Homo sapiens: one gene and its partner. The protein of the gene in region 1 purifies or fractionates together with the protein of each later gene. This does not show direct contact. Each region holds a gene or a part of one and is shown on either strand. Other genes may lie near its edges.

Region 1 (5,332 bases):
GTGCTTTTCCCTTATACTACTCTGCCTTCCCTGGCTCTCCATAGAAAAACAGGGGAGAACAATGCACTAATTGTAAGGCAGTTGTAAGAAGCATACTTGTGTCTTTTCAGGGAGAGAGTGATGTGAAGAATACAAAATGGGATTCATTCAGGAACGAGAGTTTGGAACGTCTATGTGAGAAAGCATTGTCCAGTAACTCCCCTGCAATTAAACTAAGTGCGATTCTAAAATCCTGGCCACATGATCACTCTCTCTATTTTTCTCCTTGCTTTGTTTTCCATTCTATTTCTAGTCCCATTTCCTTTTTGTTCTACGTATTCATTCTTTATACCCTCAGACCGTTCTTCTCTCGACCCTTATTTTTTATACCACCTCACTTCTAAATATTCACCCAAAATGCAATTTTTACTCAATCCCTTTCTCCTTGCAGAGGATTCTACAGATCTTCCTTAGAAAGATAATACTCATTCAGGAAACAGTAATGTACTTCACTGACTGTGTTTCTCCTTAGGAGGTATTACCACCAATCACATCTTTCAGGCCAATAAATATTTGTTATATACCTACTATTTGCCAGGCATAGTTCTAGCAAACAGAAATACAAAGATAAACAAGATATGCCACCTTTCCCCAAGAAGATCACAGCTTAGTGAGACAGGCACACAAATAGCAATAATGTCATAAGTATTAGACGTAACGTATAAAGTAGGTTTAAAAACACATGAGGAGGCCAGGAACGTTGGCTCACGCCTGTAATCCCAGCACTTTGGAAGGCCAAGGCAGGTGGATCACCTGAGGTCAGGAGTTTGAGACCAGCCTGACCAATATGGTGAAACCCCATCTCTACTAAAAATACAAAAATTAGCTGGGTGTGGTGGCATGTGCCTGTAGTCCCAGCTAGTCGGGAGGCTGAGGCAGGAGAATTGCTTGAACCCGGGAGGCAGAGGTTGCAGTGCTGAGATGGCATCACTGCACTCCAGCCTGGGTGACAGAGTGAGACTCTCTCAAAAAAAAAATTATATTTATCAAAATGCCCCCTCTCCCCAAGATCACAGCTTAGTGAGACTCTCACACAAACAGCAATAATGCCGTAAGTATTAGACATAATGTAAAAAGTAGGTTTGAAAACACATGGGGAAATAATCACTGAGTAAGTGGGGGAAGTTTGAGGGGAAACTGTGAAAAAGAGGCTGTGTTTGAACATTGAAGGAGGAGGTCATAAGGTGGACATGAATGGGCAAGTGTCATTCTAGGAAAAGGGAACAGCACAAAGGGGTACAGGATAAGACAGTAAATGATATGCTGGTAGAGCAGGCGGCATGGCTACAGAGGGGGATTCATGGAGGAAGGGAGAGGAAAGAACTAAAGACGAGGGTGGGACATCTGTGAAGGGCCTTCCTTCTGCGCCTTGCTAAGGGACCTGAACTTTATTCTGTTGGGAATGGCAAGCCACCACAGCTTCTTAAAGTAGGGGAGTGATCTGAGCACGCCAATCTTTTTTTATGAGTTCAAATCATAAGAATGAAGAATGAGTTGGCATGGAACGAGACTGGCTGCAGGTGGGCCTCTTAAGGGCTATTGGAATAGTGTTCCCTTTCCTTTGTGAATTCAACGGCTCACAATGTTCAGGTTTGTGGTTTCTGTGTCGATACCCCTTTCACATGCAATGCAACGCTCTTTTCCATTAGCTCAGCTTCTTATTTATTAATTTAGAGATAGGGTCTCCCTCTGTTGCCCAGGCTGGAATGCAGTGGTACCATCTCGGCTCACTGCAACCTCCAGCTCCTGGGCTCAAGTGATCCTCCCACCTCAACCTCTGGAGTAGCTGGGATTACAAGTGTGCAACACGAAGCCCGGGACTACAGGCATGTGCCACGATGCCTAGCTAATTTTTAATTTTTTTTTGTAGAGATGAGGTCTCCCAGCCCTCCTTTTTTTTTTTTAAATCTTTAATGACTATATTCTAGTAAATAAACAAACAAAAATTCTACTAAAGTCAGAGAAACCAATTGGATCCTATACACTTTGTTCTGGTGCCAGCTACCACTAACTTACTGCATCACACAGGACAAGGATGGCATCTTCCAGGCCCTTATCCATCAAATGAATTGGTTGAAGCACCCTACTTAATGGATTCTAAAATGCATACTTTGCCACATTTAACATTCTGAAATTGAGATGTGTCTTAGAATTCATGGTGTCCTACAATTACTGTTGTCCCAGCAGCAGTAAAAATGTACTTGTCATTGCTTGTATATACCTAAATATCAAAAGCACCAACTTCAAAACTAGCAGAGTGGATGTAAAGGTCTTGGAAGGAAATCCCAGGGACAACTGTGGAATACTCTTTTAAAATTTAGAAAGCAGACAATCGTGGGGAGGTGACAATGCAGGTATGTTTAGCAGCACTCCTGAAGAGAGGCCCAGATTAGGACAGTTCCACATAATTACAGAGTGAGTTTAAGTGCCCAGTTCAATGGCTTTTAGTTTTAGTTTTGTTTTTTTACAGATTTTTTAAATTACCACTCGATGGCACAGAGGAAATTATTATGTGGAAAAGAACCAGATATGGATAAGTAAAATAGTGATCTAAAATGTTGGACTCTGAGTGTGAAGAAGTTTTAAGAATATCAACTAATGAATGCATTTCACTTACATTTCCCCTTTTAATGTATGCACAGGAGAGATATATGATTTTAAAAATCCATGTATATTCATAGCACATTTATTTGTAATTGCCAAAAATTGAAAACAATGTGAATGATAGTAAATGAATAAAAAACAAATTGTGACCAGGTGCAGTGGCTCACGCCTGTAGTCCCAATGTTTTGGGAGGCTGAGGCAGGAGGATTTCTTGAGCCCAGGAATTTGAGACCAGCCTGGGCAACACAGTGAGACCCCGTTTCTACAATTTTTTTTTTTAAAAATTAGCTGGGCATGGTGGCACATGCCTGTAGTCCCAGTTATTCGGGAGGTTGGGGTGGGAGAATTGCTTCAGCCAGGAGGTCGAGGATGCAGTGAGCTATGATTGCACCACTGCACTCCAGCCTGGGCAACAGAATAAGACCCTGTCCCTAAATAAATAAATAAAAATAAACAAATTGTCGTATATCCACATAATGGAATACTTCTCAGCAATAAAAGGGAATGAACTATTGATGTACACAAAAACATGGATGAACCTCAAAATAATTATAATGAGAGAAAGAAGACCAAAAAGAATGTATACTGCAGGATTCCATTTATCTAAAATTTTAGAACACATAAACTAATTTATATGACAGAAAGAAATCACAGTTGCTTAGGCATGGGAGAGAGGTGGGAGGGGCTGATGAGAGGAATGACATAGGGGCATGGGGAACCTTTTGGGGATGTTGCATATGTTTACTACCTTGATTGTGGTGATGGTTTCACACATACATGCATATATCAAAACTTATCAAACTGTACACTTGAAATATGTGCACTTTATTGTATGTCATTTACACTTCAGTAAAAAAGATTTCAAAAAACCTATGTGGAAGTCGAAAACAGCTCTTTCAATAAAGTAAAAATTATTATTATTTTTTGAGACACGGTCTCAGTCTGTTGCCAGGCTTGAGTTCAGTTGTATGTCAGTACAACTCACTGCAGCCTTGACCTCTTGGGCTCAAGCGATTCTCCCACATCAGTCTCCTAAGTAGCTAGGACTACAGGTGTGCACCACCATGCCGGGCTATTTTTTTTTTATTTTTTGAAGATACAGGATCTCACTATGTTGTCCAGGCTGGTCTCCAACTCCAGTCTTCAAACAATCCTCCCAGCCTGGCCTACCACAGTGCTGGAATTACAGGTATGAGCCACTGTGCCCAGCCAAAAATTTGTATTTTTTTTTTTTTTTGAGGCAGAGTCTCACACTCACACCCAGGCTGGAGTGCAGTGGCGCAATCTCGGCTCACTGCAAGCTCCACCTCCCGGGTTCATGCCATTCTCCTGCCTCAGCCTCCTGAGTAGCTGGGACTACAGGTGCCCGCCACCACGCCCGGATAATTTTTTTTGTATTTTTAGTAGAGACAGGGTTTCACAGTGTTAGCCAGGATGGTCTCGATCTCCTGACCTCGTGATCTGCCTGTTTCGGCCTCCCAAAGTGCTGGGATTACAGGCATGAGCCACCGTGCCCGGCCAAAAATTTGTATTTTTAAGAAAACATGTTATATTTTGATTGCCAGCCTTTTTTTCTTAGTGATACATAAAATACTGGAGAGTTTTACAATCAATGGTATCTTAGAGTTTATAAGATTCTATTTGAATTTTTTTTTTTTTTTAAAGACAGGGTCTCATTCTGTTGCCCAGGCTGGCTTGATCATAGCTAACTGCAGCCTCCAATTCCTGGGCTCAAATGATCTTCCTGCTTCAGTCCCTCGAGTAGCTGGGTCTACAGGTGTGTATCACCATGCCCAGCTAATTAAATTTTTTTTTCTTTTTTGCAGAGATGAGGTCTTACTATATTGCCCAGGCTGGTCTTGAATTCCTGGGCTCAAGCAATCCTCCTGCCTCAGCCTCCCAAAGTGCTGGAATTACAGGCATGAGCCACAGTGCCCAGCCTCTATTTGGATTTCTATTGCTGGATTCTCTAACTAAACCTAAACTCCCAATTTTTCTCTAAACAGAGTTGCCGTCTAGATTAATCTACCAGTCAGACACTCCCAACACTCAGACCAGCTTCAGACTCTCCCACTTTTTTTTCTGAGTCCAGCCGGTCAGCACCTCCTGCAGGTCCTTATTGCACAACATTTTTCACACCACCCCTTCTTTTCACTCTTGTTTCAGCCTTTTGTTCCTTCATACCTGCACTACTCTGATTGCATCTTGAAAGATTTCTGTTTTTCCCTGTAAGCTACCCAGAACACTATAATTGGATCATTTTTCTCAACACTGCTAACAAGCCACTTCCCTGGTTAAGAACTTACAATGGCTCCCTCTTGTCCACAGAATGAAATCCAGACAATCTAGCTCCAAAGCTCCCATGATTTGGCTTTAACCTGCACTTCCTGTTTTCTCTCTCGTTACTTTCCTGGGGAGCCCACTTCGGCTAAAATGGCTTATTTGCTCTCTGTGGTAGGCAGAATCATGGCCACCTAAATACGTCCTCCTCCTATTCCTCACATCTATATGTTACTTTACATGGCAAAACAAATGAGTTGTGATTAGATTAAGGATTAAGGATTTTTTTTTCTTTTTTTGAGACAGAGTTTTGCTGTTGTTGCCCAGGCTGGAGTGCAATGGCACGACCTCGGCTCACTGCAACCTCTACCTCCCGGGTTCAAGCAATTCTCCTGCCTCAGCCTCCAGA
Region 2 (3,500 bases), on another chromosome or scaffold:
TAGAGATTTAATTTTAATTTTTTGAGGTCTGATGCATTGCACTTTGACTTTTTTGCATCTGGCACCAAGTAAGGGTCAAGTATTTATGTCTATCAACAATATCAACAGTATCACAGTCTTTTGAATGTTGAAGCTGAGTTAAATGTCATGAAATCAGTTAATATAAACCCTGCCACTTTACTCTATCAAAAATATTTGCTTTTAATGACATTTTCATAGAAATCTTGGAATCAATTTGTCAGTTTGTGATTGAGATTGAATTTATACATTAATTTTGAAACAGTTGATATCTTAAAAATATTGATCCTTTTGATCCGTAGATAGGGTATGCCTCCTTATTTATTTAAGTCTTATACAATTTCTCTCCGTAGTGTTTTCACTTTCAAATCATGCACAGCTTTGTTAAGTTCATTTCTGAATATTTCATGTTTTCAGGTGCTATTTATTTTATCAATGGTATTTTTAAAATGTCATATTCCAACTGTGTGTTGCTGGAATGTTGAAAGATAATAAAGTTTTGTATACTATTATTTTCTGTTACTCTGAATAAATTTCTTTAATATAACTTTTTATTTATTTATTTTTAGTGCAGCTGTGCGGGCAACACATTCAGCTTTTCGCTGTCAGAGAAAAAGTCTTTGACCTTTATTTTTAGTAATATTTTAATATATTATTTTTACTGGGTATATGGAATTCTAGGTTGAAGACTTTGTGGTTAACAAATTACCACAAGCTTCATGAGTTAAAACAACACCTGAATATTCGGTCATAGTTTCTGTAGATTAGAAATTGGGGTTAACATGGCTAGTCCTCTGTTTAGGGTCTCACTAGGCTAAAATCAAGGTATCAGCTAGGGCTGCCATTCTCATCTGGGACTTCAGGGTGTTTTGCCAAGCTCCTAGATGCCAACAGAATTCAGTTGCTTGTGGCTGTAGTATTGAGATAACTGTTTTGTTGATACTTTCTCTCTTCATCATTAAATCTATAATCATGCAGTGAACTTTTATTATACTTTAAATTTCTCAGACTTTCTCCTCTGCCACATCTCTCTGACTTCCTGTTCACATGATTCCACTGGGTCCGTCAAGATAGTCCAGAATAATCTCCCTATTTTAATATCAGCTGATTAGATAGTTTAATAGCAACTGCAAAATCCTTTTGGGAATGTAATCTGAAATAACGGCAGATGTAATAACAGAGGACTAATGTCATGGGGACCAAAATTCTGTCCATCCTATCCTGATTGGAGCACAAAAGTCTCTCATGCTTGTATAATCTCTAGGAATTATATGGCTAATAGTTTTCTGGTGGTTCCTTGCCTGATCTCATGGAGCTATAGGCTCTATGGAAGTGCAGTCTACCATTCAACAATAAACTAAAAGGGTCCTCTCTAAAGATATCTAAAGGTATTTATTTGTGTAGTTTCCTTCTGTCTGGTACTCTTACCTGCAAATAGCAGCCACTTCAACCTCTCAGAACTCCTACACCTGGCTCTTGAACTCAATGAGTTTGCTATGGCTTTTTCTTTTGCACCCTATAACTATACCCTATTCAGAAAGCATCTTCAGTCTGAGGATTGAGACAACTGTCATCCAAGGTCAGAAACCAGTGGTTTCATATATTTTATCCAGTTTCCTTTTTTATTATGGCTGGAGTACACATCCAATCTTGTCCCTTCGGCATGGCTGACCAGGAGGTTTTTATTTAATGTTCTCCCAATCAGTTAGTGATCATTCTTTTGGATGCTCAAACTGTCCCAAATGTGGCTACTGTGAGAGCCCCTTCACGTTGGTTCTTGTATCCTTCTACATGTCCCCATCAATTTTTTTGTTATTATGTGTGCTTTATTTTTACAGACATTTAATACAAACAAACAATTCTGGGAATATATACTGATCACTTACTCCTTCAAAAAGAAGATGTAGTACATTCCCCTTGCATATTCTATTCCCAAGAGTGGGATCATCAATTCTCCTAATAGCTGTGGTTCATTTTAATGGAGAATGGCCTATCGAAAGTGAGTTCTGGGCATTAGGTGTGCCCATTGACTCTAGCATGTGTTCCAGTCTAGGAATTTTTAGAGAAGAATTAGAAATCTAAGGCATTTTAAATCAAGGTCAGTCATTGGGCTTTTCTGAATGAGACTAATTTGGTACAGAGCAGAAAATTCATGGCTGACATCCTCCAAGAGCTTTAGAGGATTAGAAAATCAATTTGTGTTTAATATCTGAGATAATAGATTAATATTTGGAGTAGGACATGCTTTTAGAAGGCTGTCTTGAGGGTTGATGTTTAAAAAAGCCATAGGTCTTTCAATTTGTTGACCTTATATTTGATGTATGCTATGGGTTCTGGAATGGGAGCATTATCTGCCCTACTACCAAAGCATTTAGAAATCTTTTCTGTTCTCTTCAGAGAGTGCTATTGGAAATTGTTGTCCTAGGGATCAGGAATGCTAAATGTCCTGCAGCACCAAAGAACAGATCTCCATAATGAGGAATTGTTTCTCTCCAAATCCCAATCATGCTTCATTTATCAATACAGATTATGCAATAATTTCACGTGAAAATATTGAATATTTTTATGTTTTGCTACCCTTACCTGACTTTGGGTAAGTTGCCAGAATAAGATCATCAGGCTTGGCTTGGAAATTACATACTTTTTCCCACCATTCTTTTGATAATATCAACGTAGGGACTCCATCTACTTCCATGATGTTAAACAGTTCTGGCTTTTTTTCCATCGTGGGAGCGTTTTTCTCAATCTTCGCCATTGGGAATCTGGGATGGGTAAGATCAATACTAATTAAAATTTTTAAAAATGTTGTTTTATGGTTCATAGTATGGGTTATCATCTTACTGCCTTTGATTAGAATAGCATAAAATAAGTGAAAGCTAACATATAACATGCTAACAACTTACTCTATGTACATTAATTATTTAATCTTCATAGCAACCACATAAAATAGGTAATAGTTTTTTCTGTTTTCTACATGTGGAAACTTAAGTCATTATAAGTTTAAATAATTTGATAAAAGTAAAATAATCAATACCTGTTGGGGCTGAGATTTATACCCAAATAGTCTTTTTCCTGCTGCATGACCTAACAACCATATTACTTGTTAATCGGGAATATAATGGGTTATGTGTCATATATTGCTTCATTGTCTTCAAGATATTATTTTGTATAATTAGAAGCGAGACAATTACATTGAAGAAAATTCAAAACAATGGTTTTAAGGAGCATTCTATACTCAATTTTCTTGAATAGTTTTCACAGAGAAAATCTTCAAAAAACATAATTTCATGTAGTTTTTTTTTCATTCATGGAATAATTTTTGAAATATCAGTCATGGGTTACAGCAGAAAAAACTCTCTTGTACCCATGTACCTGAAAACTCTCATGTCTACTAACTCTGGAAACTTGGAATTTAGTTGGGGTCTGATATGGTTCGCCTGTGTCCCCACCCATTATAAGGGGGAGTTCCCCTGCACAAGCTC

Evidence for each region.
Region 2: the proteins of TMOD2 (region 1) and SULT1C3 fractionate together in Homo sapiens (co-fractionation; one large-scale study listed by BioGRID). This does not show direct contact.

What each region holds. Positions count from the first base shown.
Region 1 is NC_000015.10:51,760,697-51,766,028, reverse strand, and holds part of TMOD2 (tropomodulin-2), read right to left. Parts: intron 1-5,332. UniProt on the Homo sapiens protein: Blocks the elongation and depolymerization of the actin filaments at the pointed end. The Tmod/TM complex contributes to the formation of the short actin protofilament, which in turn defines the geometry of the membrane skeleton.
Region 2 is NC_000002.12:108,246,468-108,249,967, reverse strand, and holds part of SULT1C3 (sulfotransferase 1C3), read right to left. Parts: intron 2,781-3,500; 5' UTR 2,774-2,780; coding exon 2,602-2,773; intron 1-2,601.